Homo sapiens: one gene and its partners. The protein of the gene in region 2 interacts with the protein of the main gene of each other region in a pairwise test. Each region holds a gene or a part of one and is shown on either strand. Other genes may lie near its edges. The genes, in order: CCDC117, STIP1, PPP5C and POLA2.

Evidence for each region.
Region 1: the proteins of STIP1 (region 2) and CCDC117 interact in binary tests that used the Homo sapiens proteins (3 or more experiments, as listed by UniProt).
Region 3: the proteins of STIP1 (region 2) and PPP5C interact in binary tests that used the Homo sapiens proteins (3 or more experiments, as listed by UniProt).
Region 4: the proteins of STIP1 (region 2) and POLA2 interact in binary tests that used the Homo sapiens proteins (3 or more experiments, as listed by UniProt).

The regions. Positions count from the first base shown.
Region 1 is NC_000022.11:28,767,715-28,775,694, forward strand, and holds the start of CCDC117 (coiled-coil domain-containing protein 117), read left to right. Parts: upstream 1-4,980; 5' UTR 4,981-5,135; coding exon 5,136-5,320; intron 5,321-5,422; exon of another isoform or gene 5,423-5,509; intron 5,510-6,010; coding exon 6,011-6,064; intron 6,065-7,980. UniProt on the Homo sapiens protein: Facilitates DNA repair, cell cycle progression, and cell proliferation through its interaction with CIAO2B.
Region 2 is NC_000011.10:64,188,729-64,196,562, forward strand, and holds part of STIP1 (stress-induced-phosphoprotein 1), read left to right. Parts: intron 1-4,349; coding exon 4,350-4,559; intron 4,560-5,460; coding exon 5,461-5,602; intron 5,603-5,750; coding exon 5,751-5,892; intron 5,893-6,916; coding exon 6,917-7,085; intron 7,086-7,834. UniProt on the Homo sapiens protein: Acts as a co-chaperone for HSP90AA1. Mediates the association of the molecular chaperones HSPA8/HSC70 and HSP90.
Region 3 is NC_000019.10:46,377,724-46,385,557, forward strand, and holds part of PPP5C (serine/threonine-protein phosphatase 5), read left to right. Parts: exon of another isoform or gene 1-4,801; intron 4,802-5,687; coding exon 5,688-5,753; intron 5,754-6,056; coding exon 6,057-6,155; intron 6,156-7,080; coding exon 7,081-7,186; intron 7,187-7,834. UniProt on the Homo sapiens protein: Serine/threonine-protein phosphatase that dephosphorylates a myriad of proteins involved in different signaling pathways including the kinases CSNK1E, ASK1/MAP3K5, PRKDC and RAF1, the nuclear receptors NR3C1, PPARG, ESR1 and ESR2, SMAD proteins and TAU/MAPT.
Region 4 is NC_000011.10:65,278,488-65,286,321, forward strand, and holds part of POLA2 (DNA polymerase alpha subunit B), read left to right. Parts: intron 1-242; coding exon 243-436; intron 437-1,050; coding exon 1,051-1,139; intron 1,140-2,504; coding exon 2,505-2,660; intron 2,661-3,182; coding exon 3,183-3,245; intron 3,246-3,991; coding exon 3,992-4,034; intron 4,035-7,834. UniProt on the Homo sapiens protein: Accessory subunit of the DNA polymerase alpha complex (also known as the alpha DNA polymerase-primase complex) which plays an essential role in the initiation of DNA synthesis.

The DNA of each region.
Region 1 (7,980 bases), on a different chromosome or scaffold from region 2:
CGAGTGTCCTGCTCAGCCTCCCGAGGAGCTGGGATTATAGTTGCCCACCACCACACCTGGCTGATTTTTGTATTTTTAGTAGACACAGGGTTTCACCATGTTGGCCAGGCTGGTCGCAAACTCCTGACCTCAGGTGATCCATCCACCTTGACTTCCCAAAGTGCTAGGATTACAGGCATGAGCCACCACGCCCGGCCATGACTCTCTTTTTATAAATATATATTTATGGCCGGGCGCGGTGGCTCACGCCTGTAACCCCAGCACTTTGGGAGGCCGAGGTGGGCGGATCATAAGGTCAGGAGATCAAGACCATCCTGGCTAACATGGTGAAACCCCATCTCTACTAAAAAAAAATACAAAAAATTAGCTAGGTGTGGTGGCGGGCGCCTGTAGTCCCAGCTACTCGGGAGGCTGAGGCAGGAGAATGGCGTGAACCCGGGAGGCAGAGCCTGCAGTGAGCCGATATCACGCCACTGCAATCCAGCCTGGGTGACAGAGCGAGACTCCGTCTCAAAAAAAAAAAAAAAAAAAAAAAAAAAAAAAAAATATATATATATATATATATATATATATATATGTATTTATATTTATACATAGGATCATCTGGAAGTATCGTTTTTGTTTTTTTGAGACAGAGCTTTGCCCTCTCACCCAGGCTGAAGTACAGTGGCATGATCATGGTGTCCTGCAACCTTGAACTACTGGGCTCAAGCAATCCCCCTGTCTCAGCCTCAGTAGTAGCTAGGACAACAGGCATGCACCATCATGCCTGGCTAATTTTTTAGGTTTTATTTTTTTTGGAGACTGGGTCTTGCTATATTGCCCAGACTTGTCTTGAACTTCTGGCTTCAAGCCACATCAGCCTCCCAAAGTGCTGGGATTTCAGATGTGAGCCACCACACCCAGCCTGGAAAAATATTTTTTTTTTTTTTTTTCCCCTAAACCCCAGAGTCAACAAGACTATTTGGTAGCCAAGGCTGGAAAAAAGGATATTTTTTAAGGTAAGGAATGAGGTGGCCATTTGTAGAAATTGCCCAGGAGAGTATCTTTTATATCCAGTTAAGCAGGATTTTACTTTAAGAATGCAAAATTGAATTGTAAATGGCATTAAGAAAACTGAAACCCAATCCATTATCTTGGCAAAGGGGGTTCGTTAGTTTTCTCTTGCATCATCACAATGGCAATAGAGTTAGAGAGGAATGGGGAGAATCTGGAAGCATTTTGCAAGTAAAGTCCATAGAACTTGCTAACTGACTAGATATGGGTGTGAACAAAAGAGAGGCATTCATGGTGATGCCTTGGTTTTTGGTCAGAAAGAGAAAAGTATCTTCTGACAGAGGAAACTTCCTTGATACTGGGAGGTGAAGCCAGCTGAGCTTCTGAGTCCAGTGAGGACTTGGAGAACTTTTGTGTCTAGTCAAAGGATTGTAAATGCACCAATCGGTGCTCTGTGTCTAGCTAAAGGATTGTAAATGCACCAATCAGCACTCTGTAAAAACGCACCAATTAGCACTCTGTAAAATGGACCAATCAGCGCTCAGTAAAATGGACCAATCAGCACTCTGTAAAATGGACCAATCAGCAGGATGTGGGCAAGACCAAATAAGGGAATAAAAGCTGGCCACTTGAGACAGCAGCGCCAACCTGTTCGTGTTCCTTTTCACACTGTAGGTTTGTTCTTTCACTGTTCACAGTAAATCTTGCTGCTGCCCACTCTGGGTTTGCACTGCCTTTATGAGCCATAACACCCACCGCGAGGATCTGCTGCTTCATTCCTGAAGTCAGCAAGATCACAAACGCACCTGGCAGAACAAACAACTCCTGACAGGCCACCTTTAAGAGCTGTAACACTCACTGTGAAGGTCTGCAGGTTCTCTCCTGAAGTCAGCAAGACCACGCACCCACCGGAAGGAAGAAACTCCGGACACATTTGAACATCTGAAGTAACAAACTGCAGACGCACCATCTTTAAGAGCTGTAACACTCACCGCGAAGGTCCATGGCTTCGTTCTTGAAGTTGGGAAGACCAAGAACCAACCGGAAAGAATAAATTCCAGACACAATACTGTTAGACTTCATTGTCCTCCTGTTAAACATAAAAATTTCACAGAGCGTTATCAAACAAGGCTATTCTGACCTCATGGATCACGACAAAAACAAGTTCACTTAATCCTGTCCAAATACAGGCAAAAGCATAAACATTGTCCAAACCACAAAAATTGCTAAATACCACCCTACCCTAACTGATATGAAGGACTGTTGCTACTTTACCAGTTAGAGGTTGAGCTTTCCTTCATTCCTCACACCTTATAGAAAAGATTGGTTAAGATACCCAATCACAGCGGGCAGATCACTTGAAGTCAGGAGTTTGAGGCCAGCCTGGCCAACATGGTGAAACCCCATCTCTACTAAAAATACAAAAATTAGCCAGGCAAGGTGGCACACACCTGTAATCCCAGCTACTCAGGAGGCTGAGGCACGAGAATTGCTTGAACCTGGGAGGGAGAGGCTGCAGTGAGCCAAGATAGCACCACTGCACTCCAGTCTGGGCAACAGAGTGACACACTGTCTCAAAACAAAAAGGACACCCAATCACAAATTTATCCCCACTTCCAGACAGAATTAATTCCAGAGCAAAGCTGTTTTCTTTCTTTTCTTTTTCCTTTCCTTTTCTTTCTCTTGCCCTTTCGCCCAGGCTGGAGTGCAATGGCACGATCTCGAATCTCAGCTCACTACAACCTCTGCCTCCTGGGCTCCCCGACTCAAGCTATTCTCCTGCCTCAGCCTTCTGAGTAGCCGGGACTACAGGCGCCCACCACCATGCCTGGCTAATTTTTGTATTTTTAGTAGAGACAGGGTTTCACCATATTGACAAGGCTGGTCTTGAACTCCTGACCTTGTGATCCCACTGCCTCGGCCTCCCAAAGTGCTGGGATTACAGGTGTGAGCCACTGCACCTGGCCGAAAAGTTCTTTTTTTTTTTTTTTGGAGAGGGAGTCTCGCTGTGTCTCCCTTGCTGGAGTGCGGTGGCGTGATCTCCGCTCACTGCAAGCTCCGCCTGCCGGGTTCACGCCATTCTCCTGCCTCAGCCTCCCAAGTAGCTGGGACTACAGGCACCCGCCACCACCCCCGGCTAATTTTTTGTATTTATTTATTTATTTGTTTATTTATTTATTTATTTTGTGAGACAGAGTCTCACTCTGTTGCCCAGGCTGGAGTGCAGTGATATGATCTCGGCTCACTGCAAGCTCCGCCTCCCGGGTTCACGCCATTCTCCTGCCTCAGCATCCCGAGTAGCTGGGACTACAGGCGCCCACCACCACGCCCGGCTAATTTTTTGTATTTTTAGTAGAGACGGGGTTTCACCGTGTTAGCCAGGATGATCTCGCTCTCCTGACCTCGTGATCCACCTGCCTCGGCCTCCCAAAGTGCTGGGATTACAGGCGTGAGCCACGGAGCCCAGCCAAAAGCTGTTTTTTAAAACCTTCCCTCAAAACGTCTAACACAACCCCAAATCCTATAAAAAGCCTTTGTAACACCTCCTAAGGGAGAAATTTCCTCACTGGAATGAGTAGATAAACCTTTCTTTGTTCAATTATGTACATGTGTGTGCTTTGGCTGAAGGGCATTGACATTGGCATAAGCAGTTTCGATTGGATGGTGGTGCTGTTGTGAGATGGAAAAAACAGGGCATAGTCAGTGATTGGGGGTTGACCATCTGCCAAGCCCAGGCAGGAGATACTGCCTCTGAATGCCCCAAAGAGGCTGGAAGGCTTGCCAGTACCTGTCACAAGTGCTCTGAGGCTTTTGTTTTTGTTTAAGTCCTGAGTTTACTTTTTTTTTTTTTTTTTTTTGAGACACGGTCTTGCTCTGTCACTCAGACTGGAGTGCAGTGGTGTAATTATAGCCCACTGTAACCTCAAACTCATGGGCTCAAGCAATCCTCTCACCTCAGCCTCCCCAGTAGCTAGGACTACAGACATGCACTACCACGGTGGGCTAATTGTTATTTTTTTGTTGTTGAGATAGGGTCAAGCTAGACCTAGGATGGACTCCTGGCCTCAAGCGATTCTCCCACCTCCCACCTCCGACCTCCCAAAGTGATGGGATCACAGGCGTGAGCCACCTTGCCGCGCAACTGAGGTGTTTTTTTGTTTTGTTTTGTTTCTTGAGACGTAGTCTCGCTCTGCCACCCAGGCTGGAGTGCAGTGGCACGATCGCGGCTCACTGCAACCTCCGCCTCCCGGGTTCAAGCGATTCTCCTGCCTCAGCCTCCCGAGTACATGGGATTACAGGCGCGCACCACCACACCTGGCTAATTTTTTATATTTTTGGTAGAGACGGGATTTCACCACGTAGGCCAGGCTGGTCTTGAACTCCTGACCTCAAGTGATTCGCCCACCTCGGCCTCCCAAAGTGGTAAGATTACAGGCGTGAGCCACCGCCCCCAGCCAGCAGCTGAGGTTTTTACTTAATTTTCTATGCTGTTCTAAGGCACCACCAACTTCATTTGTATTAAAATTGTTACATTTTTATTAATAGAGTCACATATGAATAACTGATAATGAGCGTGTATTGTATGTCAGGCACTGCTTTAAGGGCTCTAGATTGTTTTTGTTTTGAGACAGGGTCTCCCGGGCTCAAGAGATCCTCCCGCCTCCACCTTCCAAATTGCTGGGATTACACGAGTGAGCCACCGCCCTGCCCTGGCTCTAGATGTTTAAATTCATGTACTCCGCACATCAACTCTATGATTATATGTACTATTATTATCTCATTTTACTACTGTGGAAACTGAGATACGAAACTTGCGGAGTGAGGATTTGAACCTAGGTCATACTCTTGGCCAGCCAGAGACACCCTAAGCCCCAGCTAAGAGGTCGAGAAGCAGCCATTTTGCTTGTAGTCCGGAAGGACTGCAAATCCCGGCATCCCTCGCGGCAGCGGCCCTCTACACACAACAAATCCCGGCATGCCCCCGAGCGGCCTGAGGTGGAGGGTTCTAGAAGGCGTGACGTGGGGTCGAGAGCGGGATCCGAGGCTGGCGGGTTTTGGCAGTAGCTGTGGCTGCGGCTGCCGGGCCTGGGGACGCGGGCGGCCGAGGCCGCCGTCGCAGCCTCCTCGTCTCGCCGGCTATGGCTGCGCTCGGCCGGCCCTTCAGCGGCCTCCCTCTGAGCGGCGGCTCGGACTTCCTGCAGCCGCCGCAGCCGGCCTTCCCCGGCCGGGCCTTCCCGCCGGGGGCTGACGGCGCCGAGTTGGCCCCGCGGCCGGGACCTCGCGCAGTCCCTAGCAGTCCCGCTGGGAGTGCGGCGCGCGGACGGTGAGGAGCCCGTCGGGCGCAGGGCGCAGGGCGGGCGGGCGGGCGGGCAGGCTGGGCGCCCCTCGCGGCGGGCGCGGGCAGGGGCGCGGGCTCCGCGCCGGGGCTTTTTGACTCCCTCCCCACGGCCCTCCGCGGGAGCTTCGCAGCCCAGTTTACAGATGAAGAAACTGATCCCCGGAGACGTTAACTGTAAGTCGCCGGGGGTCACATAGCCCAGGAGTCCGGTCCGAACCTCAGCTCGACTGCGGCCCGGAGAAGTGAGACTTTCCCAGTTGGAACCTGGGCGACTCGGTCTGGGTGCCCCCTCGGCGCGGCCGCTGTTAGTGACAACTTTCAGTGTCTCATCTGCAAAGTATGCCAAGCATGGGACAGAAATGGGTCCTCTTAGTGAGATTATTTAAATAAAGTGCTTAACACAGCGCCTGCCCCGAGGACGTTTCCCTGGTTTGGTCCTCCCTAATCTGTCTTCCATTACGTTGATAAAAGGACAAGTTGAGATTTCACTGTCCAGTTCTGTCGGGGCAATCCACCGTTACCCGACTGACCTGTGATTTGTACCCATCCCACTAGGCTCAGAAAGGGACGTTTGGTATGTGGGGATGAGCAAGATTATTGGAGCAAGAAAGAGGATACTGAAACCACAAGCTCGAGTACATTTCTTAATTGACTGATTTTTGTTTGTTTCAACAGTGTTTCTGTTCACTGTAAAAAGAAACACAAGCGAGAGGAGGAGGAGGATGATGAGTAAGTTTCAGTGGTTGTTTATTCACTCTGTGGTCACCGTTAGTTGAACCCCTGTTATAGTCTAAATTACTTAAGTGAAAAGGTGAAACATTAGATGAGTGTCTCTGGAAAGAGACACAGAAATTAGTGACATTGGTTGTCTTTTAGAGAAAGTAACAGTGGCAGGCAGACAGGTCAGAGGGAAACTTTTCGCTCTATAACAAGTTGTAATATTTGGATTTTGAGCCATGTTAATATTACATGCACAAAGTAAAATAATTTAAAGGATACATATTGAAAAGTTTTGTTTTTGTTTTTTTTTTTTTTTGGGACGGAGTCTGCCTCTGTCGCCCAGGCTGGAGTGCAGTGGCGCTATGTGGGCTCACTGCAATCTCCGCCTCCCGGCTTCATGCCATTCTCCTGCCTCAGCCTCCCGAGTAGCTGGGACTACAGGCGCCCGCCACCACGCCTGGCAATTTTTTTTTTTTTTTAGTAGAGACGGGGTTTCACTGTGTTAGCCAGGGTGGTCTTGATCTTCTGACTTCATGATCCTCCCGCCTCAGCCTCCCAAAGTGCTGAGATTACAGGCCTGAGCCGCCCCGGCCTGAAAAGTCTTTTTTTTTTTTTTTTTTTTAAAGTCAGGGGCTCTGTCACCCAAGCTGGAGTGCAGTTGTGTGATCACAGCTCACTGCAGCCTCAAACTCCTTGGGCTCAAATGATCCCTCAGCTTCAGCCTCCTGAACAGCTGAGACTACAGACTTGTGCCACCAGGCTCAGCTAATTTTTTAAAAAATTTTTTGTAGAGATGGTGTCTCACTATGTTGCCCAGTCTGGTCATGAACTTCTGGCCTCAAGCAGTCCTCCCAACTCTGGGATTACAGGTGTGAACCGTCCCCCAGGCTGTATTACAAAATCTTTTACTCCACACCCCTAGTTTTCCCCACCAGAGACAACCCCCTTACCTGTTTTCATTGTCTCCTTTAGAAGATAATCTAAAAATTTACCAAGTTCACAAGTGTTTTTCTTTTTCTTTCTTTTTTTCTTTTTTGAGACAAGGCCTCATTCTGTCAGGCTGGAGTGCAGTGGCTGTGTTTTTACATTTGTAGGAAGATATGGTTCACACTGTGCAACACATTGATCTTTTCATTTTACTCTTCTGTAGCTTGTTGCATATCAGCACATAGAGAGAGGTTTACGTAATTTCTCTTTCAATAGTTGAGTGGAGGCCAGGCGTGGTGGCTCACACCTGTAATCCCAGCACTTTGGGAGGCTGAGAAGGGCAGATCAGGAGGTCAGGAGTTTGAGACCAGCTTGGCCAGCATGGTGAAACCCCATCTCTATTAAAATACAAAAATTAGCCATGGGTAGTGGTGCGTAACTGTAATGCCAGCTACTCAGGAGGCTGAGGCAGGAGAATCACTTGAACCCGGGAGGTGGAGGTTGCAGTGAGCCAAGATTGCGCCATTGCACTCCAGCCTGGGCAGTAGAGTGAGACTCCGTCTCAAAAAAACAAAAGAAAGTAGTTGTGTGGAATTCTATCGTAGGACTTGGTGTAGATAATTAACCAATTTCCTATTGATGCATTTCTAAATTATTTCTAATCTTTTGCTATTACAATCTACCCTGACCATTCTTTTGAAGTTCTTTGTATATGTTTGGAAGTATATGAATGATTTCCTTGACGTGGAATTGCTGGGTCTTAAAGTGTGTGCATTTTAAATTTTGAACGTGAGTTTTTGCCAATTTATATGCCCATTAACATCCTCTGAACACAAGTGTGTTTTTAAACTTCGGGATTGCTGCCCAACTAATAGATGAAAAATTATATCTCATAAACAGTCTAATAGAAAAAGAAGTAAGGCCAGGCGCGGTGGCTCACACCTGTAATCCCGGCACTTTGGGAAGCCGAGGCAGGTGGATCACGAGGTCAGGAGTTC
Region 2 (7,834 bases):
TGTACAGGTAGGTAGATGGTGAATGAATATTTGACTTAGGACAGCAAACTGGCATGGCAGCTGTACAGATGACCTGGCATTTAATCCCAGGTGTGTTTGAGCCCACCATCTGGAAGCCATTCCTGAAAACAAACACGATTTCTCTACCTTTTGTTTTCATTTTCAACTGTGAGGTTTGTATTTCAGTTTAGAAAATACTCAAGTTGGGCCGGGTGCAGTGGCTCACACTTGTAATCCCAGCACTTTGGGAGGCCGAGGTGGGCGGATCATGAGGTCAGGAGTTTGAGACCAACCTGTCCAGCATGGTGAAACCCCGTCTCTAGTAAAAATACAAAAGAAAAAAGAAAAACTGGGCCGGGCGTGCTGGCTCACGCCTGTAATCCCAACACTTTGGGAGGTTGAGGCGGGTGGATCACGAGGTCAGGAGCTCAAGACCAGCCTGGCCAATATGGTGAAACCCTGTCTCTATTAAAAATACAAAAATTAGCTGGATGTGGTGGCACGCGCCTGTAGTCCCGGCTACTTGGGAGGCTGAGGCAGGAGAATCGCTTGAACCCGGGAGGCGGACCTTGAAGTGAGCCGAGATTGCGCCACTGCACTCCAGACTGGGTAACAGCGAGACTCCGTCTCAAAAAAAAAAAATAAATAAATAAGCGGACATTGTGGTGCGCGCCTGTGGTCCCAGCTACGTGGGAGGCTGAGGCAGGACAATTGCTTGAACCTGGCTGGTCGAGGTTGCAGTGAGCCAAGATTGCGCCACTGCCCTCCAGCCTGAATGACAGCGAAACTGCATCTCCAAAAAAAAAAAGTTGGACAGATTTTGAATGTTCAGGCTTTTTTTTTTCAATAGGGGCCTTTCAAATCCCACAATGATACACTTCTTACATTTAACCCAACACAGGCGTACAGCCATGTAACACATTCAGCAAAACAGTATTTACTGTTATGTGCACTGTGTGCTGGTATTTTTTTGTCCCATTTGGTCTCTTAAAATGCTGGTCATGACCTACAAAATTGATTTCCTGACCCACTGTTGATCAGTACTCTGTTTGAAAAATGCTTTTCTAAAGCATAGGCAGGAACTTCACCAGCTGCCTCTTGACACCACTTGAGTTTTGTTAACTCTTCGTCTTCTGGCCTCCATCTTGGGCTCTAGGATTTTTTATCCCTTGTTTGCTTAATTTGGCAGGTTCCTTCTGCCCTTGCCTCTGTAAGGTCTCTGATTGATGGAAGTTCCTGATCTCTCTATTTGAGGATTCCAAAATCATTTCTCTCTTTTTTTTTTTTTTCCAAATAGAGTCTCACTCTGTCCTCCAGGTGAGAATGCAGTGGTGCAATCTCGGCTCACTGCAGCCTCCGACTCCCAGGTTCAGATGATTCTCCTGCCTCAGCCTGCTGAGTAGCTGGGACTACAGGCATGCACCACCACATCCGGGCAATTTATTTATTTATTTATTTTTTTGAGACTGAGTTTCGCTCTTGTTGCCCAGGCTGGAGTGCAATGACGCAATCTCAGCTTACTGCAACCTCCGCCTCCCAGGTTCTAGCAATTTTCCTGCCTCAGCCTCCCAAGTAGCTGGGATTACAGGCATGCACCACCACGCCCGGCTAATTTTTTTTGTATTTTTAGTAGAGACGGGGTTTCTCCATGTTGAGGCTGGTCTCGAACTCCTGACCTCAGGTGATCTGCCCACCTTGGCCTCCCAAAGTGCTGGGATTACAGGCGTGAGCCACTGCACCCGGCAGCAGCTAATTTTTGTATTTGTAGTAGAGACGGGGTTTCACCATGTTGGCCAGGCTGGTCTCGAACTCCTGACCTCAGTTAATCTACCCGCCTCAGCTTCCCAAAGTGCTGAGATTACAGCCTAAAATCATTTCTCTTGACAAAACTATTTCTTGCATCAATTTACTGGGTCGTGGGTGGATAATACATAGAATGAGTTAGTAACTTCGGTGACAACTCTATCTCACAGAACGTTTACCTCTTAAAAGTGTATTTTGGCCTGGTGTGGTGGTTCACCTTTGGGAGACTGAGGCAGGAGGGTTGCTTTAGGCCAAGAGTTTGAGACAAGCCTGGGCAATATGGTGAGACACCATTTCTACCACAAAAAGAAAAAAACATTTAGCCAGGCATGGTGACACACACTTGTAGTCCCAGCTACTTAAAAGGCTGAGTTGGCCGGGCGCAGTGGCTCATACCAGTAATCCCAGCACTTTGGGAGGCCAAGGCAGGCAGATCACCTGAGGCCAGGAGTTCAAGACCAGCCTGACCAACATGGAGAAACCCCGTCTCTACTAAAAATACAAAATTAGACGGATGTGGTAGTGCGTGTCTGTAATCCCAGCTACTCAGGAGGCTGAGGCAGGAGAATCGCTTGAACCTGGGAGGCAGAGGTTGTGGTGAGGCAAGATTGTGCTATTGCACTCCAGCCTGGGCAACCAGAGTGAAACTCTGTCTCAAAAAAAAAAAAAAAAAAGGGCTGAGTCAGGAGGATTGCTTGAGCCCAGGAGCTCAAGGTTACAGTCAGCTGTGATCATGCCACTGCACTCCAGGCTGGTAACAGAGTGAGATGCCATCTTTAAAAAAAAATAAATATGGCCAGGCGCGGTGGCTCACGCCTGTAATCCCAGCACTTTGGGAGGCTGAGATGGGTGGATTAAGAGGTCAGGAGTTCGAGACCAGCCTGGCCAACATGGTGAAACTCCATCTCTACTAAAAATACAAAAATTAGCTGGGCGTGGTGGCGGGTGACTGTAATCCCAGCTACTCAGGAGGCTGAGGCAGGAGAATCGCTTGAACCTAGGAGGCGGAGGTTGCCGTGAGGCAAGATTGTGCCACTACACTCCAGTCTGGGGACAGAGCAAGACTCTGTCTCAAAAAATAATAATAATAAATACAATGAGCTTCTCAAGGGGTTGCCTGCCCTCAGGTAGGCTGCTGTGGGGCACCTGACCTTTTGTGGGGCAGCTCAGTAAGGAGAAACCCTTTAGTGAGGACACTGTTCTGACAGGGCCAAGGCCTGCCTCACTTTTTTTTTTTTTTTAATGAAAAAGTAAAATTTAATGTGGAAAATGCAAACTTGGGGAGGGCAGAAAGATCACACACAAGGCTGTCACTTCACACTTGGAGGGTTGCACAGTGGCCCAACAGAGGCACACCTCACTTGCCAGACGGTGGGGCAGGTGGGCAGAGGTGCTCCTCTCTCCCCAGTCAGTTGGGTGGCCGGGCAGAGGCGCTCCTCACTTCCCAGTCGGTGGGGCGGCCAGGCAGAGCTGCCTCACTTTTTAAAACTGCTGTATCCCACCGGGCGCGGTGGCTCACACCTGTAATCCCAGCACTTTGGGAGGCCAAGGCGTGTGGATCACCTGAGGTCAGGAGTTTTAAGACCAGCCTGACCAATATGGTGAAACCCCGTCTCTACTAAAATTACAAAAATTAGCCAAGTGTGGGGGTGTGCGCCTGTAGTCCCAGCTACTTGGGAGGCTGAGGCAGGAGAATCGCTTGAACCTGGGAGGCGGAGGTTGCAGTGAGCCGAGATCGTGCCACTGCACTCCAGCCTGGGTGACAGAGTGAGACTCTGTCTCAAAAAACACAACAAAACAAAACCCCGCTGTATCCTTACTTCTTGCACTTTATATGTTTGAGAAGGGAGAGGTTTAAACCACAGTAGCATTTCTTCATCCTCCATCCCCTTTGTAATGTAATATTTAAGAATGGCAGGAATCAATTTGGGGAGCTAGCTTGACTGTTACCCATTAATGAACATTTATCTATCCTGTGGTGACATGTTGCCACACCAGGAAATGGAGACTGGTTCTTCCCTGATGGGAGGAGATGACAACTATGCCATAGGCAAGCATCTTGCCGCTCCCAAGAAAGAGAAGTCTCCGCTGCCATCCCACAGCCTTTGGGTCACTGGAGCATGTATCAGTGCCACTCCGCCCACCTTCTTCCTGTGAGGGGTGACTAGGGCTGTGCTCTGTTTGTCATTTGGATGCTTTGGAAATCTGTGGCAAATGAATTGACTTTTCCATGGAAGGAGCATGTGGCACATTCTGGAGTGGCTTCGTGAGCTCCATGTGGAGACCGGAAGAGTGGCAGAGCCCTCGTTCGTCACATGGGGGCCAGCGTGGAGTGCAGCCTGGGCTCTTTGCCCCTGCTTATTTTTTCTTTGCTGGCTCCTTAGGGAAGGTGTGAGAAATTAAATAAATGAACCGGTTTTCTCTCTTCTGATCTGTAAAGTCACCTATTTATTTGTTGGTAACTACATGAAAGAATGAGTGTTGTCTTTAAAGCTTGGGATTAAATGGGCACATCATAGAGAAGCTGTGTGTTCCTTTCCCCTCAGGTCAATGAGCTGAAGGAGAAAGGCAACAAGGCCCTGAGCGTGGGTAACATCGATGATGCCTTACAGTGCTACTCCGAAGCTATTAAGCTGGATCCCCACAACCACGTGCTGTACAGCAACCGTTCTGCTGCCTATGCCAAGAAAGGAGACTACCAGAAGGCTTATGAGGATGGCTGCAAGACTGTCGACCTAAAGCCTGACTGGGGCAAGGTCAGCTGTGGGCAGTGGAGGGAGAGAGGCCCTTCAGACCCTTCCAGAAATGCCTTTTGGTGGCCTGAGGTTTACCTGTCCTGATACACTGATAGTTACCTACCCACCTCCCTGTTTGAGTATCCTCCTCAGAAATGGCATTTTTCATCAAATCTAAGGTAGCCATTAGTTGTAATACAGGCTTTATTTTTGGTACTAAGAAGGAAGAGGCCAGGGCTGGGCGCGGTGACGCACGCCTGTGATCCCAACACTTTGGGAGGCTGAGGTGGGCGGATCACTTGAGGTCAGGAGTTCAAGACCAGCCTGGCCAACATGGTGAAACCCTGTCTGTACTAAAAATGCAAAAAAATTTAGCCAGGCATGGTGGCATGTGCTTGTAGTCCCATCTACTCAGGAGACTAAGGCAGGAGGATCACCTGAGCCTGGCAAGCGGAGGTTGCAGTGAGCTGAAATCGTGCCACTGCATCCAGCCCAGGTGACACGGCAAGACCCTGTCTCAAAAAAAAAGGAAGAGGCCCGGTACAGTGGCTCACGCCTATAATCCCAGCACTTTGGGAGGTTGAGGCAGGAGGATTACTGGAGCCCAAAGGTTTGGGACCAGCCTGGGTAACATAAGGAGTCCCTGTCTTTACCAAAAAAATAAGGGAAAAAGTGTTGCCAAAGAAACTGACCACAGTCGATCAGAGGTGAACAAGGCGGGGCGGATGTGCCTCTGCTATTTGGATGGATCCTTACAGTAGCAGCCTTGGCCTCGTAGCCTACTCCTCTCCTTTTTTTCTCTTTGGCCTTCATGTGAATACTCATTTTTCCCCCATAAAAGTAGAATTGTTCTTTTTTGAGTTCGTCTTCTAGATTTACCTCTGGGTGTTCTCTATTTTGTGTCTGTCTTTGGTGGTTTAAGGGCTATTCACGAAAAGCAGCAGCTCTAGAGTTCTTAAACCGCTTTGAAGAAGCCAAGCGAACCTATGAGGAGGGCTTAAAACACGAGGCAAATAACCCTCAACTGAAAGAGGGTTTACAGAATATGGAGGCCAGGTTGGCAGGTAGGTACCACGCACAGTTTTCTTTCTTATTATTAATGTGATTAATTTTGAGTCTTCACCCCTGAGAAATGTCAGTCTGGTAGGGTATGGGACACAGTAATTCTAGTGAACTCATTTCATAGTGATGTGCTTTCCTTTATTTGGACAGAGAGAAAATTCATGAACCCTTTCAACATGCCTAATCTGTATCAGAAGTTGGAGAGTGATCCCAGGACAAGGACACTACTCAGTGATCCTACCTACCGGGAGCTGATAGAGCAGCTACGAAACAAGCCTTCTGACCTGGGCACGTAAGTGGACGCCGCTCACTGAGGTTCTGGAAATCGGGGAATGTTATGCTTTCTTCCTGTAACCTCACAGCAGAGGGTTCCCTGGTCTAAACTGCAGAGTTTTTGCCTTTGCTTATTCTCTGCAGAGCAGTAGGTGGTGGTCGTTTATTTGTAATTATAGAAAGGGTCAGGGGAGCATATTTCACAGTAATCTAGAATGTTCTTTGTCATCTGTATACACCTCTCTCCTGCTCTTCTAGAACTCTGATCTAGCGTCAACCCCATCCTTTCCATCTACTTAGGCCCTACTTTCTCTGTTGGTATATCAGAGTGGAAACAGGGTTGAAGTTCATGTGTAAAGATGTGTCTAAATCTTGTACTGGTATTCATCTCTATCAATCCTCTGGCTCCTGAGATCAGCTACGGAAGTATACCTAAAACAACTCATTCCTCTGTGTATCTGCTAACCTTGAGGAATAAACTTGACCTCTGTGACTTCATTTTATTTTATTTTATTTTATTTTATTTTTTCAAGATGGAGTCTCGCTCTGTCCCCTAGGCTGGAGTGCAGTGGTGTGATCTCAGTTCGCTGCAACTTCCACCTCCTGGGTTCAAGCGATTCTCCTGCCTCAGCCTCCTGAGTAGCTGGGATTACAGGTGTACGCCACCACGCCCAGCTAATTTTTGTATGTTTAGTAGTAGCGGTGGGTTTCACCATGTTGGCTAGGCTGGTCTCAAACTCCTGACCTCAAGTGGTCTGCCCGCCTCGGCCTCCCAAAGTGCTGGGATTACAGGTGTGAGCCACCGTGCTCCGCTATCTGTGACTTCATTTTATTTGTTTTTGTTGACTCTATTTTAGATAGTGTTTTGACGGTTTGAGTATTTCTCAATTGTAACTCATGAGTGGTGCAAAATCTAGCCATCTTTTGATGGGTGAGGAGCTTCTAAACACAAGAATCTGACTTTAGTAGTAAGTGGGAGTTAAAAGACTAATTGTGGGGAGGAGTAATTACAATTTTTCTTTATTTTTTTAAATCAATACTAGGAAACTACAAGATCCCCGGATCATGACCACTCTCAGCGTCCTCCTTGGGGTCGATCTGGGCAGTATGGATGAGGAGGAAGAGATTGCAACACCTCCACCACCACCCCCTCCCAAAAAGGAGACCAAGCCAGAGCCAATGGAAGAAGATCTTCCAGAGAATAAGAAGCAGGTCTTGTTTTTTTCTCTCCTCACTGTCACCTATCTATAAACAACTAGAAATCTTTATGTTGAATGGGGACATCTGTTGACCTTGATTGACCATGATTATTATGGTTTTTTTAGAGACGGAGTCTTGCTGTGTTTCCCAGGTTGGTCTTGAACTTCTGGCCTCAAGCGATGCTCCTGCTTCAGCTAGGATTACAGTCACGAGCCACTGTGCCCACCTAAAACTATTTTGAGTGCTTTAGTATGCGCTAAGCTTATGGCTATTATTCATTAGAATGGCCAGCATGTTAAAAAATCAGCTTCAGGCCAGGCACGGTGGCTCATGCCTATAATCCCAGCACTTTTGGAGGCCAAGGTGGGCAGATCACCTGAGGTCAGGAGTTCAAGACCAGTCTGGCCAACATGGTGAAACCTCATCTTCACTAAAAACACAAAAATTAGCCAGGTGTCATGGTGGGCGCCTGTAGTCCCAGCTACTCGGGAGGCTGAGGCAGAAGAATCGCTTGAACTCGGGAGGCAGAGGTTGCAATAAGCTGAGAGCTCATCACTACACTCCAGGCTGGGTGACAGAGCGAGACTCCATCTCAAAAAAAAAAAAAAAAAAAGCTTCACAAGAGCATTCCTAGGAGTAATGTGTAGCAAAGAGTGAGCTGCGGGAGTTGCCCTTCCCGTGGTCACCACAGCGGCTTCATTGCTGCCAGTGTGAATGTTGGTCCTAGCAAGACTGGAAAGTTGAGAGTAATTCACGTCCTT
Region 3 (7,834 bases), on a different chromosome or scaffold from region 2:
TTTGAATTTCATTTCAATGTCATATGGGCTTACAGCGTTTAGTGTCTCTTCTTTCATGTGGCACAATGTGTGTGGGATTCATACATGGATGTTGTGTATATCGGTAGCTCAAGTCCTCCATTGTCTGAACAGCCCATGACTTGTTTATGCAGTCTTCTTTTGAGAGACATTTGGGTTATTTCTACTTTGTAGCTTTTATAAGTATAAGCTGCTATGAACTTCTTGGACAAGTCTTTTTGTGAACATGTTTTCATTGTTCATGTTGAATTTCTCTATTGATTGTCTTTTGTTTCATTGATTTTTCATTCATTATTCTCTATGCATGCTTGAGGTTTAATTTGCTTTCTTCTGGCTTCTGAAGATGGACATTAATGCTGTTAATTTTACATCTTTTCTTCCACACAAAGCATTTAAAACTAAATTTCCTTCCAGGCAGTAAGTTAGCTGCGTCCCGTGAATTTTAATACGTCGTATTTTCATTATCATTGAGTTAGAATTGTTTTCTAATTTTCTTTATGGTTTCTGATTTTATCCATAGATTATTGAGAAGGGTATTGTTTAACTCCCAAATATTTGGGGACTTCTAGATGTTACTGTTACTGATTTCTAATTTGGTCAGACAACACACTCTGGATGATTCCATTGGGGCTATTTTTAGATCTGTCTTGGCAAACATGCAGTATGTACTGGAAAATAGTGTGTATTTTGCAGTCGTTAGTCATAGGGCTCTATAAATGTCAATTAGTTCAAGATGGTTGAGACTGCTGTTAAAAATCTTTTATAGCCTATTTTTTCTAATTGCTCAATCATTTATTGAGGGGGCTGTTAAAAGCTCCGACTATACTTGTAGATTTGCCTATTTCTCCCTATAATTCTCAGTTTTTTGCTTCCTGTATTTTGAAATTTTTATTAGGCACACATTTAGGATTGTTATGCTTTCTTGATGAATTGACTCATTATAATGAAGTGACTTCAGTACTTTTTGGCTTGAAATCCCTGTTTTCTATTAAAATAGTTAAACCAGATTTTTACAGTTAATATTTGCATGCTATAACTTTTCTACCCTTTTGTATTTAACCCATTGGTATCTTTATATTTAAAATGTTTTTCTTATAAACAGCATATACTTGGGTCTTGCCTTTTTATCCAGTTGGACAATCTTTACCTTTTTTTTTTTGAGGTGGAATTTCGCTCTTGTTGCCCAGGTTGGAGTGCAATGGTGTGATCTTGGCTCACTGCAACTTCTGCCTCCTGGATTCAAGCAATTCTCCTGCCTCAGCCTCCAGAGTAGCTAGGATTACAGGCACACGCCACTATACCCAACTAATTTTTGTTTCGTTTTGTTTTTTGAGACGGAGTCTCATTCTGTCACCAGGGTAGAGTGCAGTGGCGCAATCTCAGCTCACTGCAACCTCTGTGTCCCAGATTCAAGTGATTCTCCTGCCTCAGCCTCCCGAGTAGCTGGGACTACAGGTGTGCACCACCATGCCCAGCTAACTTCTGTATTTTTAGTAGAGATGGGATTGTACCATGTTGGCCAGGATGGCCTCGATCTCTTGACCTCGTGATCCACCTGCCTCAGCCTCCCAAAGTGCTGGAATTACAGGCATGAGCCACCATGCCTGGCCTGATTTTTGTATTTTTAATAGAGACAGTGTTTCACCATGTTGGTCAAGTTGGTCTCAAACTCCTGACCTCAGATAATCCACCCACCTCGGCCTCCTAAAGTGCTGGAATTACAGGTGTCAGCCACCATTCCCAGCCAATCTTTACCTTTTAATTGGAGTGTTTAGTTCATTTATGTTTAACTATCAGCAATCATATGATTGCATTTCAATCTACTGTCTAGATGTCTCTTTTCTATATGTCCCATTTGTTTTTTTCCCCCTTGTTTCTCCTTCTTTGACTTTCTTTTGTGTGAATCAGGAATCTTTTAGCATTTCATCTGTTTTATTGAATTTTTTGTTATACTTTTGAATGTGTGTGGCGAGGGGTGGAGTGTTACATGGTTGCTCTAGAGCAGCCCTTCTCAGCTGAGGCTCTATAGAGAGAATTAAGCCCTAACTCCCTTAGGCATCCATTATATCCGCAGTGAATTAACTCCTCTCCTGTGAATCTGTGTGCTCTCCTTGGGAGAACTGAGCAGATATCACTGAAAATATTTTTTGTGGGGCTTAATCATTTCCCGGAACCCTGGATGAAAAAGGCTGCTCCAAAGATTACAATGTGTAACTTTAACTTGTCCTATTCTACTTTCAAATAATAATATGATACTTAATGGACAATATAAGAATCTTATGGCCTGGGGCAGTGGCTCATGCCTGTAATCCCAGCAGTTTCGGAGGCCGAGGCAGGTGAATCACTTGGGGTCAGGAGTTCCAGACTAGCCTGGTCAACATGGCAAAAACCCCATCTCTACAACCCTGTCTCTACTAAAAATACAAAAATTAGCCAGGCATGGTGGCACACACTTCTAATCCCAGCTGCTCGAGAGGCTGAGGCAGAAGAATCACTTGAACCCAGGAGGTGGAGGTTGCAGTGAGCCAAGGTCGTGCCACTGCACTCCAGCCTGGGCAACAGAGCGAGACTCCATCTCAAAAGAAAAAAAAAAAAAGAATCTTACAATATTGTGATTGCTTTTATTTTCTCCCAGCCTTTGTGCTCTTGTCATGCTTATGCATCTGCTATAAATACATTGTTGTCATTTCCTTAAATAGACACTAGTCTTCTAAAGAAATACACGTATGAATACACAGAAAATGTCTTTTATATTTACCCTTTCTCTTACTCCTTGTTTCTTCTTCCATATGTGAGTTTCTATCTGGTATCATGCCCCTTCTGCCTGAGTACTTTTAGCATTTCTTACAGTGCACGTCTGCTGTAGACTAATTCTCTCAGCTTTGGTCTGCCTGAAAATGTTTTTATTTTGTCTTCATTTTTAGGGGTGTCTTTGCTGGATGTAGAGTTCTAGGTTGACATTGTTTCTTTCAAGGCTTTAAATGTGTTTTTTTCCCATTGCCTTTTGACCTCCATTGTTTCTGTGAGAACTCAGCAATCATTCATATCTTTGTTCTATATAGTCTGCTTTTTTCTTCACTGGTTTTAAGATGTTGCCTTTGGGTTTTAGTAGTTTGACTATGATGGGCTTTGATGTGCTTTTTTTGAGTCTGTGGGTTAATATCTTTCATTAGTTTTGGAAAGTTCTTAGCCATTATTTCTTATATTTCTTCCCATTTCTGCTCTCCTCTCCGTCTGGAAAGCTAATAACATGCTCTTTGATACTATTTGATACTATTCCTTAGATCTTAATGACCTGAATTTTTTTAATTCTTTTCACGATTTTTCCTCTATGTATTTCAGTTCAGATAATTTCAGTTGTCCTTATGTTCACTGATTCTTTGTAACTGCTGTCAAGCCCAACAAATGAATTATTTATTTCTTACATTGTATTTTTTATTGGTAGCATTTTCATTTAGTTGTGTTTTTTTTAATAGACTTTTCATCTCTGTGTCTCATGTGTTCATGCATGTTGTCCACCTTTTCCACCAAGTCCTTTCACACATTTACCATGGTTATCTTAACGTCTCTGTCTGATAGTTCCATCATCTGGTTCATCTCTGAGTCTGCTCTGTTACCAGTTCTTCATGTGTTTTACAATTTTATTGTATGCCAGCTATTTTGTATAAAAGAACATTAGAGACTGAGGTAAATAAAGTTTTTCCTCAGAAAATGGCACACTTAGGCTGGGCACCATGGCTCAGGCCTGTAATCCTAGCACTTTGGGAGGCCAAGGTGGGCAGATCGCTTGAGCCCAGTAGTTCAAGACCAGCCTGGGCAACTTGTAGAAACCCCACCTCTACAAAAAAAATACAAAAATTAGCCAGGCATGGTGGTTGGCACCTGTAGTCCTAGCTACTTGGGAGGCTGAGTGGGGAGGATCACCTGAACCTGGGAGGTTGAGGCTGCAGTGAACTGTGTTCGAGCCACTGCACTCCAGCCTGGGTGACAGAGTGAGACCCTGTCTTAAAACAAATAAACAAATAAGAAAATGGCACACATTTCTCCTGTTGAGCCACAAGAGGGAGGGGCTGTGTGAACCTCATCTGTAGTTTAGGGGCAGCTTTTATTGGAGTTTCTTTACCACCGGCTTTAAATGTGTTCAGAGTAGAATTAGGACTTTCCCTTCAGCAGAGCTTGGGATCTTAGCCCTGGCAGAATTCCAGGGATGTCTTTATGTTTTAAAGTCGCCAGCTTTTGGAACTGTGGGAGGCCTCTGGTATTCAGCCCTGCCGCCAGACTGTGGGGCCACTGGGGTGCTCTCCGCTCTCCAGTCTCGCCCCCACTTCTGTACCTCAGGAGGTTTCTCTGCACCTCACTCCCTCGCGCCCAACCTTCCATGAAGCCCGTGTGAGGGAGTTGGCAGGGGGCAGAGGCGGGCTGTGCTGGGGCTCCCTGGAGTCCTCATCTGTCACGCCAGTCCCCACACGGTCATGAACTTCCACTCATTTCCCCTCACGCAGGGCATCCCGCCCTGCTGCCTCGCACCAGGGTGAAAGCTGTGGGCTCCTTCCCCAAGGAAGGGCTCGTCCTGTCTGCATTTTGATTAATTTAGGTCCCTTTGCATTGCCAGCTCTCAGATGGCTTTACCTTTGATTTTGTTGCTTGTTTGGCTTGTTTTCATCTTTAGGGCGAGACAGTCTTTTGTAACTTTTCTACCTTCTGACTAGAAGTGGATGCCGCCTGCATTTTCTTAACACCTTTTTCCCCAGCTTATTTTGGAAATCGTCAGACCTACAGAGAGCTGAAAGAACAGTACAGTTAACATCTGTCCACCCTTCACACAGATTCACCACTTGTGAACATTTTAATGCATTAACTTTATGTGTCTGTCTACTTATTTATGCATTTGTATGTGTATACTTTTTTCTTTTTTTTCCCCTAACCCATTTGAAAGTAAGTTGCAGCCATCATAACCTGGATCTCCCAAAAACAAAGACGTCCTCTTGTGTGACCACAGTTGAATTGTCCTACCTTAGAAATTCATCATTGATGTGATAATACTGACTAAGGTAGACAGTCCACAGGCCATCCGGAAAATCTGGAAACATTGACAAATATGCATGTCATTGTCAAGGTCATATCCAATCTGTGAAAAATAAATCATCTGCATTTCTAGACATCTATTAGTATTTTAATTCTCCCCAGCTCTCCCCAAAACATCCTTTTTAGCTGCTTTTAAAAAATTCAGCGTCCGTTGAAAGCACCAGTGTTGCCTATGACCTGCCTTTTTACCTCTTTTTACCTAGAAAGTCTCACTTCTTTTTTGGGAGACTCTTTTATGACAGTGACATTGCGCTGTGTCCAGGCCAGTTCTTTTATAAAATGTTCTACGATCTGGATTCATGCATGTATTTCCACTTGATGCTGAGTATTTTAAGATAATTCAAGAATCAGGTTTTCGTACAAAACAATCGCAATGCTTCGGCACTGCACAGGCCACAGAAGCCTGCGGCTGCCTCCGGCCCCGCCTGCTCCCGCTCCCCCAGGCCTGCCCTGCCCTTTTTCTTCTCTCCCTGCTTCTCCCTCGCCCTCAGCCCAGCAGCGTCTCATGGGCAGTCCAGGCTTTCGGGGCCAGGTTGGGCAGCAGCCCCTGCAGCCGGTCCCACTGAGTCTGCCCTGCCTTCCAGATTCTGGTACAGGTCAAAGAGGTCCTCTCCAAGCTGAGCACGCTCGTGGAAACCACACTCAAAGAGGTGCGCGTTGTGGGGCAGTGCGGGGAGGGCCAGCGGGGGTGGGCTCTCTGGCTGGGGAGGGGCCACAGAGCTCAGGAACTCACGGATCCACCTCCCTCTCTCCCTCACACCCCACCCCTGTGCCTTTCCTCCTGAATATCCCATTTCTCTCCTGGCCTCTTGGTCTTCGTTTGTGTTCCCTGCTTGTGTCTCTTGCATGATTCTTCTTGGTCTACTGTGAACTCTTACCCTTCCCCTCACCTCTGCCCCCTCCCCACGTCTCTCTCTCGGCCCGTCCCTCTCCGGTGGCCTCTTTTCTTTCAGACAGAGAAGATTACAGTATGTGGGGACACCCATGGCCAGTTCTATGACCTCCTCAACATATTCGAGCTCAACGGTTTACCCTCGGAGACCAACCCCTATGTATCCTTCTCAGCAGAGCCACCCTCTCCCCACCTCCACCCCCAGCCGCAGCCTCAGGTCTGCACAGAGTGGGAGGAGCCCTTGCCAGGAAAAGACGTGACCTTGGAAAGGAGAGGCCTGGCCATGCTGGGGCACCAAGGTGTGGGTGGAGCTGCAGGCTGGCCATGCACCCCAGGCTCCAGGCTCGGACAGGCCTGGGCCAGCACCCACCTGCTGTGTGACCTAAGCTGGTAGCTCAGTCTCTCTGGGTCTTGGCTTGTCTTCGTCTGCCTCAGGATCACATTTGAATGGCACCTGGCACTGGCCACACTTGGGTTCCATCCTGGCTTTGCCACTTCCCAGCTGTGTGACCGAAGCAGGTTACTTCACTGCTTGGTGTCACAGTTTCCCCATTTGCAAAGAGGGATAATAATATGTGCAACCTTGTTACTCAGCAGTTACTGAGAGGACAGGTTAAGAACAGGGCCTGGCCCACACCTGATGCTATCTAAGTATTTCCCCGTGTTATGGTATCTGCTCGATGAACGGCCACTTGTAGGGCCACTAGGCCTATGCATTGTTGAGTGGGAGGGCCCGTGTCCCATCTCCCCCATGGCTCCAGGCCTCTCTGAGGAGAGCTGAAGGAGGTGGACTGACTAGTCCCCGCACCTCCCCGCCACTGGCTTTCCGGGAGACAGGAGGCAGGGTCCTCAGTGCCATACTACTGAGGCTCAGCGGCCAAGCTCTGGCTGGAGCCACGGTGAGGAAAGGATTAGAAACCCAGATCCCTTGAGCCCTGCCAAGTCCTCACTCCCTGGGAGGTGCTGACAGGAGGCTTGAGGCCAGGCAGGAGCAGCCCATCTGGCCCATCTTCTGCCACCACCCCCAACCCCACCGCACCGCACCCTTCCCCTCCACGCTTGCCATGTTTTCCTCAGCAGGACAGATATTTAATGGTGACTTTGTGGACCGAGGCTCCTTCTCTGTAGAAGTGATCCTCACCCTTTTCGGCTTCAAGCTCCTGTACCCAGATCACTTTCACCTCCTTCGAGGTGAGCTGGGAAGTGACAAGGTTTGGGTTCATTGTGGGGTCCTGAGTGGGGCACTCACTCTGCAAGGATAATAGTTGCAGCTGTATTTATTTTGTGGACTCGGAGATCATGCACAGGGCGACCTTTTAAGATTGAGTATGTAGTGCACTGCACAAAAGCATCACACCAAAGGACGCGTTTACATCATAGATAGTGTAGAAATGGATGTTTACTCTGACCATTTTTCAGCAGATGGCAAACAAGGGTGTGAGGATGGGCCCCTTATTCTAATTTGCACAAGGGCATGAAACAGGCTCCTGGGTGGCCCTAAATCTGGCACTAAAGCTGAGTGACTGAGTGAACAGACCAGGGCTCGAGGGTGGGAGTAAGGAGACTGTTGACGAGGCAGTTGTGCCCCCTCAGATTCAGGCTTGGTGTCAGATTTGGGTTCTCTTGATTGAAGTAGAGCCCGGAGCTGAGTGTGCTGGTTCACACCTGTAATCCCAGCACTTTGGAAGGCCCAGGTAGGAGGATCACTTCAGCCCAGGAGTTTGAGACCAGCCTGGGCAACACAGTGAGACTTTGTCTCCAGTAAACATTTTTTAAAAAGGCCAGGCGCAGTGGCTCATGCCTGTAATCCCAGCATTTTGGGAGGCCAAGGCAGGTGGA
Region 4 (7,834 bases), 1.1 Mb from region 2:
GTTTCTGTCTCTAAACTTCTCTAAAAATGTTTGGTATTCCTCAGCCTGGTATTCCTCAGCCCTTCATTCCTGAAATTCCTTAAAGGTCTGGGTATGTCCAACCCCATTAAACTGATTCAATTTATAAACTATGAGGCCACCTTCCTTTTCTCCAGTCCCCATTTCCAAAGGTAACCTCATTTTATTCTTCTCTCCCTTTAGATATGAACACAGTAATATTAACCTGTTTTGCTTCCAATTAGTGCTACTCCCTCCCAGAAATACAACTCACGAAGTAACCGAGGAGAAGTGGTTACCTCCTTCGGCTTAGCACAGGGAGTATCTTGGTCTGGGAGAGGAGGAGCTGGAAACATCAGCCTGAAGGTCTTGGGATGTCCAGAGGCACTAACTGGGAGCTACAAATCCATGTTTCAGAAGCTCCCAGACATTCGAGAAGGTGATTGTTTTTCCCTTTGAAATTCTGGTGGATATAAAACCACCTAGAAGGGTGTAGAGTAACAAAGCTTCAGCTAGGCTGGTAGAACAAGTTCCAAGGTTGCCTTTCAATGTATGAGTTGGTAGATGTCCTCATGGAAGCCCTAGTAATGGAGGGACACGGGCAATACTATCAGTGATTGCCCCAAGTCACTTCACTTTGCTAAAACGCACATAACCATTCCCAGCAGCAAAAACTTGAACGATGTAAAGGAATTCAACTTAAAGATATTCATGGTTCCTTCGTTAGAAGCCTTCTTCAGGTTGGCCTTGACTTGCCTAAAACCTCAGTGAGGACTTGAGTAAAGGGCAGACTTGGAGATGGGGTGGGGTTCATGCTGATTCCCTGGAATTGTGCTATGGGGTCTCCTGTGGCCAGATGGAAGGCCAGATTCAGCAACCAAATATCGGAAAATTGGCAAAGGTTTTAGAAGGTTTAAACTGGCCAGATGTCCAGGCACCCTTCCTGCTTCTGTAAAATGACTGACTTTAATATTTTACAATGTGCTGTATTTTCTCTTCTTGGCAAGTGAAATGTCTTAAACATAATACTTTTTTCCACTTCTGGGATTGTAGTTCTGACCTGTAAGATAGAAGAACTTGGCAGCGAACTCAAGGAACATTACAAGATTGAAGCTTTCACTCCTTTGCTAGCCCCAGCACAGGTAAGAGTTGTTCTAATAGTTCTCACTAATTAATATTACGTTTTTAAATCGATGACCAAGAGGCATCCTTCTTGCTTCCTTTTTCACTTCTTGTCTGTGTTCTAGTTTGAACATCTGTCTTGGTTGAATTTGGGAAAATGGGCCCTTCTGAAGAAAGATTTGTAAGTGCTGTCTGGTTTTGTGGCCAGAGAGTGATTTTCTTCCCACTTGGATTAGAGTCTTGCACATAAGCAGAGACTCAAGGCCTTGTTTCCCTTGGTGGTGAGTCAGGTAGCTCCCCGGGGATTTCCCACAAATAGAAGCATTCACGTATCGAGATAAAAGGACAGCAGCGACGGTGGGGTTTTCAGAATCTTGTTCTCTGGACAATGACTCACAGTCTCTCCCCTGGTTTGGTCTCTTGTTATAGACAAACTGCTGCCAATAGTATCTTTATATCATAGTTTAATCTGGCATATATACCAGTGCTTTCTCTCTAGAATGTTTTCTAATCTAAGGGGAAATATATTCTAGAAGTTTCTTTAAAGTACCTTTGTCAATGTTTACATTCAAAGAATGATCAGTTGGGGAAGTGATGCAGAACTGTGTCATAGAAGGAAGTGTTAGAGGACTTGGAAGGAAGTAATTGAGGGAAGGCAGGGAGGCACAATCACTGGGAAAGATGAGACTTCCTCTGTTTTCTCCCAAGAGTGGGAACAGAACAGAGGAAGCCATGGAGACAGAGATTTTAGCTCAATTAATAAAGAACTTCCTGTTAAGAGGTTGTATGGTATGTGGCTAAGGATATGGCTCTAGAGCCAAATTTCTGGTTTCAAACCCAAGCTTCACCCACAGTTTGACCTTGACTAAATTATCTAACCTTTCTGTTGCTTGTTTTCCTCATCTGTAAAATGGATACAGTAATATCCACCCGATGGTTGTTGCAAGGATTAAATGAGTTAATACATATAAAATGCCTAAGAATACATTTTAGAACAGTGCATGGTATTTAGTAAGCTCAAGAAATGTTAGCTATTATTAAGTAGTTATAGCTGCCCAAAGATGCAGTGGGCTGCCCTGGGGTGGTGAGGACAGGGTGGGGTAGGCATCCAGGGGCAAGTTCCCCTACACTAGAGATGCTCACACTTAGGCAGCCTCCTAGGAAGGCTCAAGTGCTGGGTGGATGGGTGGACAAGATGCCCTTTCAGAGTTCTTCCATCCTGAGAGTCAGTGATGACGCGGTAGTCACCTCAGGGTCAAAGCAATGCCCTGCCAAGAAATGTATTTGTTGTTTGCAGTTTGTTTTGCTATTCACCCTATCGACTTCAGATTTTGAGCTCCTGCTCCAAAGACTGTCATTCTTATGCTGTGACCTTCCTTTGGTAGGAGCCTGTCACTCTGCTGGGCCAGATTGGCTGTGATAGCAACGGGAAGCTGAACAACAAGTCAGTGATTCTCGAGGGAGACCGGGAACATTCCTCGGGTGCTCAAATTCCAGTGGATTTATCTGAGCTTAAGGAATATTCTCTGTTTCCTGGACAGGTGAGATTGGAGGAGTTCCACCAGAATGCAGGCGCACTCTTTACCCCTGTAGTGTAGGTGCTGTGCCATGCGCAGCTGCTCCTCAGTTCCTGTCTCTGCTGCCATGGGGTGCAGCTGGAGCACATGCCCCAGAGCAGACACCACTGTTGGGATTCCTGTTTCCCCCATGCTCTGACCCAGGCTCTGGGACCTGACTGCGCAGCCTCAAATCCCAACTCCCCGCTCCATGAGGTGCATGACTGTGCACAAGGTACTTAACCATCTAAACTACAGTTTCTTCACTCACAAAATGGAAATAATAATTCTTACCTCATAGGATTGTTGTGAAAATTAGATCACTTATATAGAGCATAATTATTATTACTAATGCAACGCCCTTAATTCGTTTTCTACAAAAATGCCCTAAGTTTATGATTACAGAATGAGAGTAGTTGGACAATGCTTTTAACTGCCTCAAAATAATGTATTCCAGACCTCATTGATCTCCACTGCTTAGCAATCCTGTTTGTTTTTGTCTTTCAGGTTGTAATTATGGAAGGAATCAACACCACTGGTAGGAAACTTGTTGCCACCAAACTCTACGAGGTACACAGCAGTACCCCCACTTGCCTCTTGGTTTGCTTCAGACAAAGTATGTCTGGAAGCTGTCTGTTCTAGAAACTGGTCCTTTTTAGGAGCCCATTTATTTGTTAGTCAGTTCTCCATCTGTAAGTGGGAACCCACCCCTAGGCCAGGGGTCAGCAAACCCTTTCTATAAAGGGCCAGACAGTAACTCTTTTAGACTTTGTAGCTATATGGTCTCTGTCACAATGACTCAATTCTGCCTTTGTCTACAAAAGCAGCCATAGAGGACTCTTAAACAGATGACTGTGGCTGTGTTCCCATAAAACTTTATTTAAATAGTGGGCTGCAGCCAAATTTGGCCCAGAGGCCGAAAGGTTACCTATCCCTGCTCTAGGCAACAATCCTCCAGAGATTTTCGTAGAATGCCAGGAAAAGTAGCAAGAAACCATTCTCTCCCATCCTTGCCTAGAAGTACACTGATACTTTAGGCACCTGTTTTGCTCCCACTTGTTGCTGGGTATTTTATGACAATTGAGTAGTGACCTCCCATTACCTGGGTTTCTTTGCCCTCTGAGCAGTATAGAAAAATGGCAGGTCCCATCAGATCCAGGGAGCAAGACAGAGGCACATCCTTCCCCTGCCCTCTCGCTCCTCCCCACTGTCCTCCCATCACACACCTGCACCACCCCCAACCTGGTGCCCTCCCCTTTCCTTACCAAGGTGATGCCTGGCGCAAGACCTTACTTGAGCTTTTCCCCTGTTTTTAGGGTGTGCCACTTCCATTTTATCAGCCCACTGAAGAGGATGCAGGTGAGTTTCGGTTCAAATATTGTTTTGCCAACAATGAGGATGGTAGACATGAGTCCAGGAGTGCAGTTTCCCAAGCCCAAGAAAGCTGCAGAAGCTGCTGAAGAGCAATGTGACCAAGCAGTGAGGGCGCCACCATCATGAGTTCGTAGGTTTTTTGTCACAAGACCCCTGGTCTGAGCCCAGTGAGCGTTGGTCGTGCTGTCGCCTGAGTTCTGCCTACATGAAGCATGTTGTTTAAAGACTAATGTTTAACAGGTATTTTTGAAGGTTGCCTTGGAAAGGAAAAGATGTACGATTTCAAAAAGAATTTATTTACATGCAGCATGGGCAGATGCGGTGGCTCACACCTGTATTCCCAACACTTTGGGAGGCCAAGGTGGGAGGATCACCTGAGGCCAGGAGTTGGAAACTAGCCTGGGCAACATAGGGAGACCCTGTCTCTACTAAAAATTAAAAAAAATATTAGCTGGGCTTGTGGTGCATGCCTGTAGTCCTAGCTAATCAGAGGCTGAGACAGGAGGATTGCCTAAGCCCAGGAGTTCAAGGTTGCAGTGAGCTATGGTAACACCATTTTACTCCAGCCTGTGTGACAGAGCGAGACTCTGACTCTTAAAAAAAATTAAAATTAATTAATTTTTTGAAAGTATAATGTGGCATCCTGGATTGGATCCTTGAAGAGAACGGGAACATCAGTGGAACAACTAGCAACATCTGAATAAAGCCAGGAATTTACTTTTTTATTTTTCTGGCTCTAACACTCAACCTCGAGAATCCAGGAATTTAGTTAACAGCGATATACCAGCATTAATGCCTTAATTTTGACAAATGTTCATGGTTACCTAACATGTTAAGATTAGGGGCCACTGGTGAAAGACACACAGGAACTCTGTACTATCTTCATAACTTCTCTACAATTCTAAATTTGTTCTAAAGTGAAAACTTAAAAATAACTTCCTTTTTTTTTTTGAGATGGAGTCTCGCTCTGCCCCCCAGGCTGGAGTGCAGTGGCAAGATCTTGGCTCACTGCAAGCTCCGCCTCCCGGGTTCAGGTGATTCTCCTGCCTCAGCCTCCTAAGTAGCTGGGATTACAGGCGTACACCACACCCGGCTAATTTTTGTATTTTTACAAAACCCCATAGTGATGGGGTTTCACCATGTTGGTCAGGCTGGTCTTGAACTCCTGACCTTGTGATCCGCCTGCCTTGGCCTCTCAAAGTGCTGGGATTGCAGGCATGAGCCACCATGCCCGGCCAAAAAGAATTTCTTTAAAACCCTAGTGTTATGTGGTAACTAATCTAGTTGTGGAAAGGCAAAAAGAAAGTTTGACAAACTTTGCTTCTAAATATTTCAACATAATTTCAGCACTTCACAGGGCTGAGGTGGGAAGATCACTTGAGCCCAGGAGTTTGAGACCAGCCTGGGCAATATGGCGAAAACCTGTCTCTACAAAAAAAAAAAAAAAATTAGCTCGGCATGGTGGCATGTGCCTGTGGTCCCAGCTGCTCAGGAGGCTGAGGTGCGGGGATCACTTGAGCCTGGGAAGTCAAGGCTACAGTAAGCCGTGATCATGCCACTGCACTTCAGCATGGGTGAAAGAGTAAGACACTAGATAGATAGATAGATAGATAGATAGATAGATAGATAGATAGATAGAATTTATTTATTTCAAGGTGGCCAGGTGTGATGGCTGACTTCTGTAACCCAGCACTTTGGGAGGCCAAGGTGAGAGAATTGCTTGAGCCCAGTTTAAGTTTAGCCTCCCGGCACATAGTGGGTCTGCATCTCTACAAAAAATAAAAACAAAAAAAATCAGCTTGGTGTGGTTGTGCACACCTGTATAGTCCCCACTACTTGCGAGGCTGAAGTAGGAGGATTGCTTGAGCCCAGGAAGTCAAGGCTGCAGTGAGCCATGATTGTGCCATTGCACTCCAGCCTGGGTGTCAGAGTGAGACCCTGTCTCAAAAAAATATATGTATGTATTTCTGTATTTCAAGGCATTGTTTTTTTTTTCTTTTTTTTTTTTTTAGACAGAGTTTCACTCGTTGCCCAGGTTGTAGTGCAAGGCGCCATCTCGGCTCACCGCAACCTCCACCTCCCGGGTTCAAGCGATTCTCCTGCCTTAGCCTCCCAAGTAGCTGGGATTACAGGCATGCACCTGTAATGCCTGGCTAATTTTTGTATTTTTAGTAGAGATGGGGTTTCTCCATGTTGGTCAGGCTGGTCTCAAACTCCCAACCTCAGGTGATCTGCCCGCCTCGGCCTCCCAAAATGCTGGGATTACAGGCATGAGTCACCACACCCAACCCTCAAGGCATTTTTGTAAGCACAGTGGAGCACTGTTAAGGATTAGCAACCAGATCACTGATACTAGCATGTTGTCAACACCCCATGCATGTAACAGTGGCCAGAGCCATTCTTGGAGATGACCTAGAATCAGGAGTGAAATTTAGGACCTTGTGATATTGCACATTTTATCAGAAAACACAAGTTTGGCCGGGCGTGGTGGCTCATGCTGGCGCAGGAGGATTGCTTGACCACAGGAGTTTGAGAGCAGCCTGGGCAACATGGTGAAACCTCATCTCTACAAAAAGTACAAAAATTAGGCCAGGCGCAGTGGTTCACCCCTGTAATCCCAGCACTTTGGGAGGCCGAGGTGGGCGGATCACACGGTCAGGAGATAGAGACCATTCTGGCCAACAAGCTGAAACCCCATCTCCACTAAAAAATACAAAAATTAGCTTGGCTTGGCAGCGTGTGCCTATAATCCCAGTTACTCAGGAGGCTGAGGCAGGAGAATCGCTTGAACCTGGGAGGTAGAAGTTGCAGTGAGCCGAGATCGCCAATGAACTCCAGCCTGGCGACAGAGCTAGACTCTGTCTCAAAAAAAAAAATTAGCTGGGTGTGGGCATGGTGGCATGTGCCTATAGTCCCAGCAACCTGGAAGGCTAAGGTGGGAGGATCACTCTCCTGAGTCCAGGAGTTCAAGGCTGCCATGAGCCATGATCATACCACTACTGCACTCCAGCCTAGGAGTGAGAGTGAGATCCTATCTCAAAAAAAAAAAAAAAAGAAAAAGAAAAAAAAGAAAATACAAATTTATAGGGGGCAAGGGTGGCATGCTGGTATTAGGTCAACTTCAGGTAATGAAATCAACCTGGCTGAGATACCAGGAGCCTGAGCTGTGTACCAGAGAAGCCTTTGGAAACAGTTTAACAGGTTGTTAATGAACTTTTGTACAAGGAATTAAATGAGGCACTCATGGAGATACAGAATAAGACATGGCCCTCGCCCTCCAGAGACTCACTGCTTACACTGGGGCTCACATCTCCTGTAGGCTTCTCAGAGCCAAACTTAACTTTGTCCCCTACCCCACCACCACATGAAACCTGCTCTTCACCTTGAATGCTCTGTCAGTTCATGGTATTATTACCATGATAGACTGAATCACAGCCCCAGGAATCCCTGGAACCTGTGAATATTTTACCATTTGTGGTAAAGGAGACTTTGCCCGTGTGATTAAGTTAAGGCTGTTGAGATGGGGGATTAGCCTGGATTATCCAGGTGGGTCCACTATAATCACAAGGGTCCTTATAAGAGGAATGGCAAGAGAATCAGAGTCAGAGCTTAGAAATGTTAGGCTGCTGTGATTTGAGGAAGCCTAAAGAAAAATTTTATTTCAAAATAGAGAAATCTTAGGCTTCTGGCTTTGCCGCTGCAGGTGGGGCCATGAACCAGGGAATGCAGGTGGCCTCTGAAAGCTGGAAAAGGCAAGGAAATGGATTCTTCTCTAGAACCTCCAG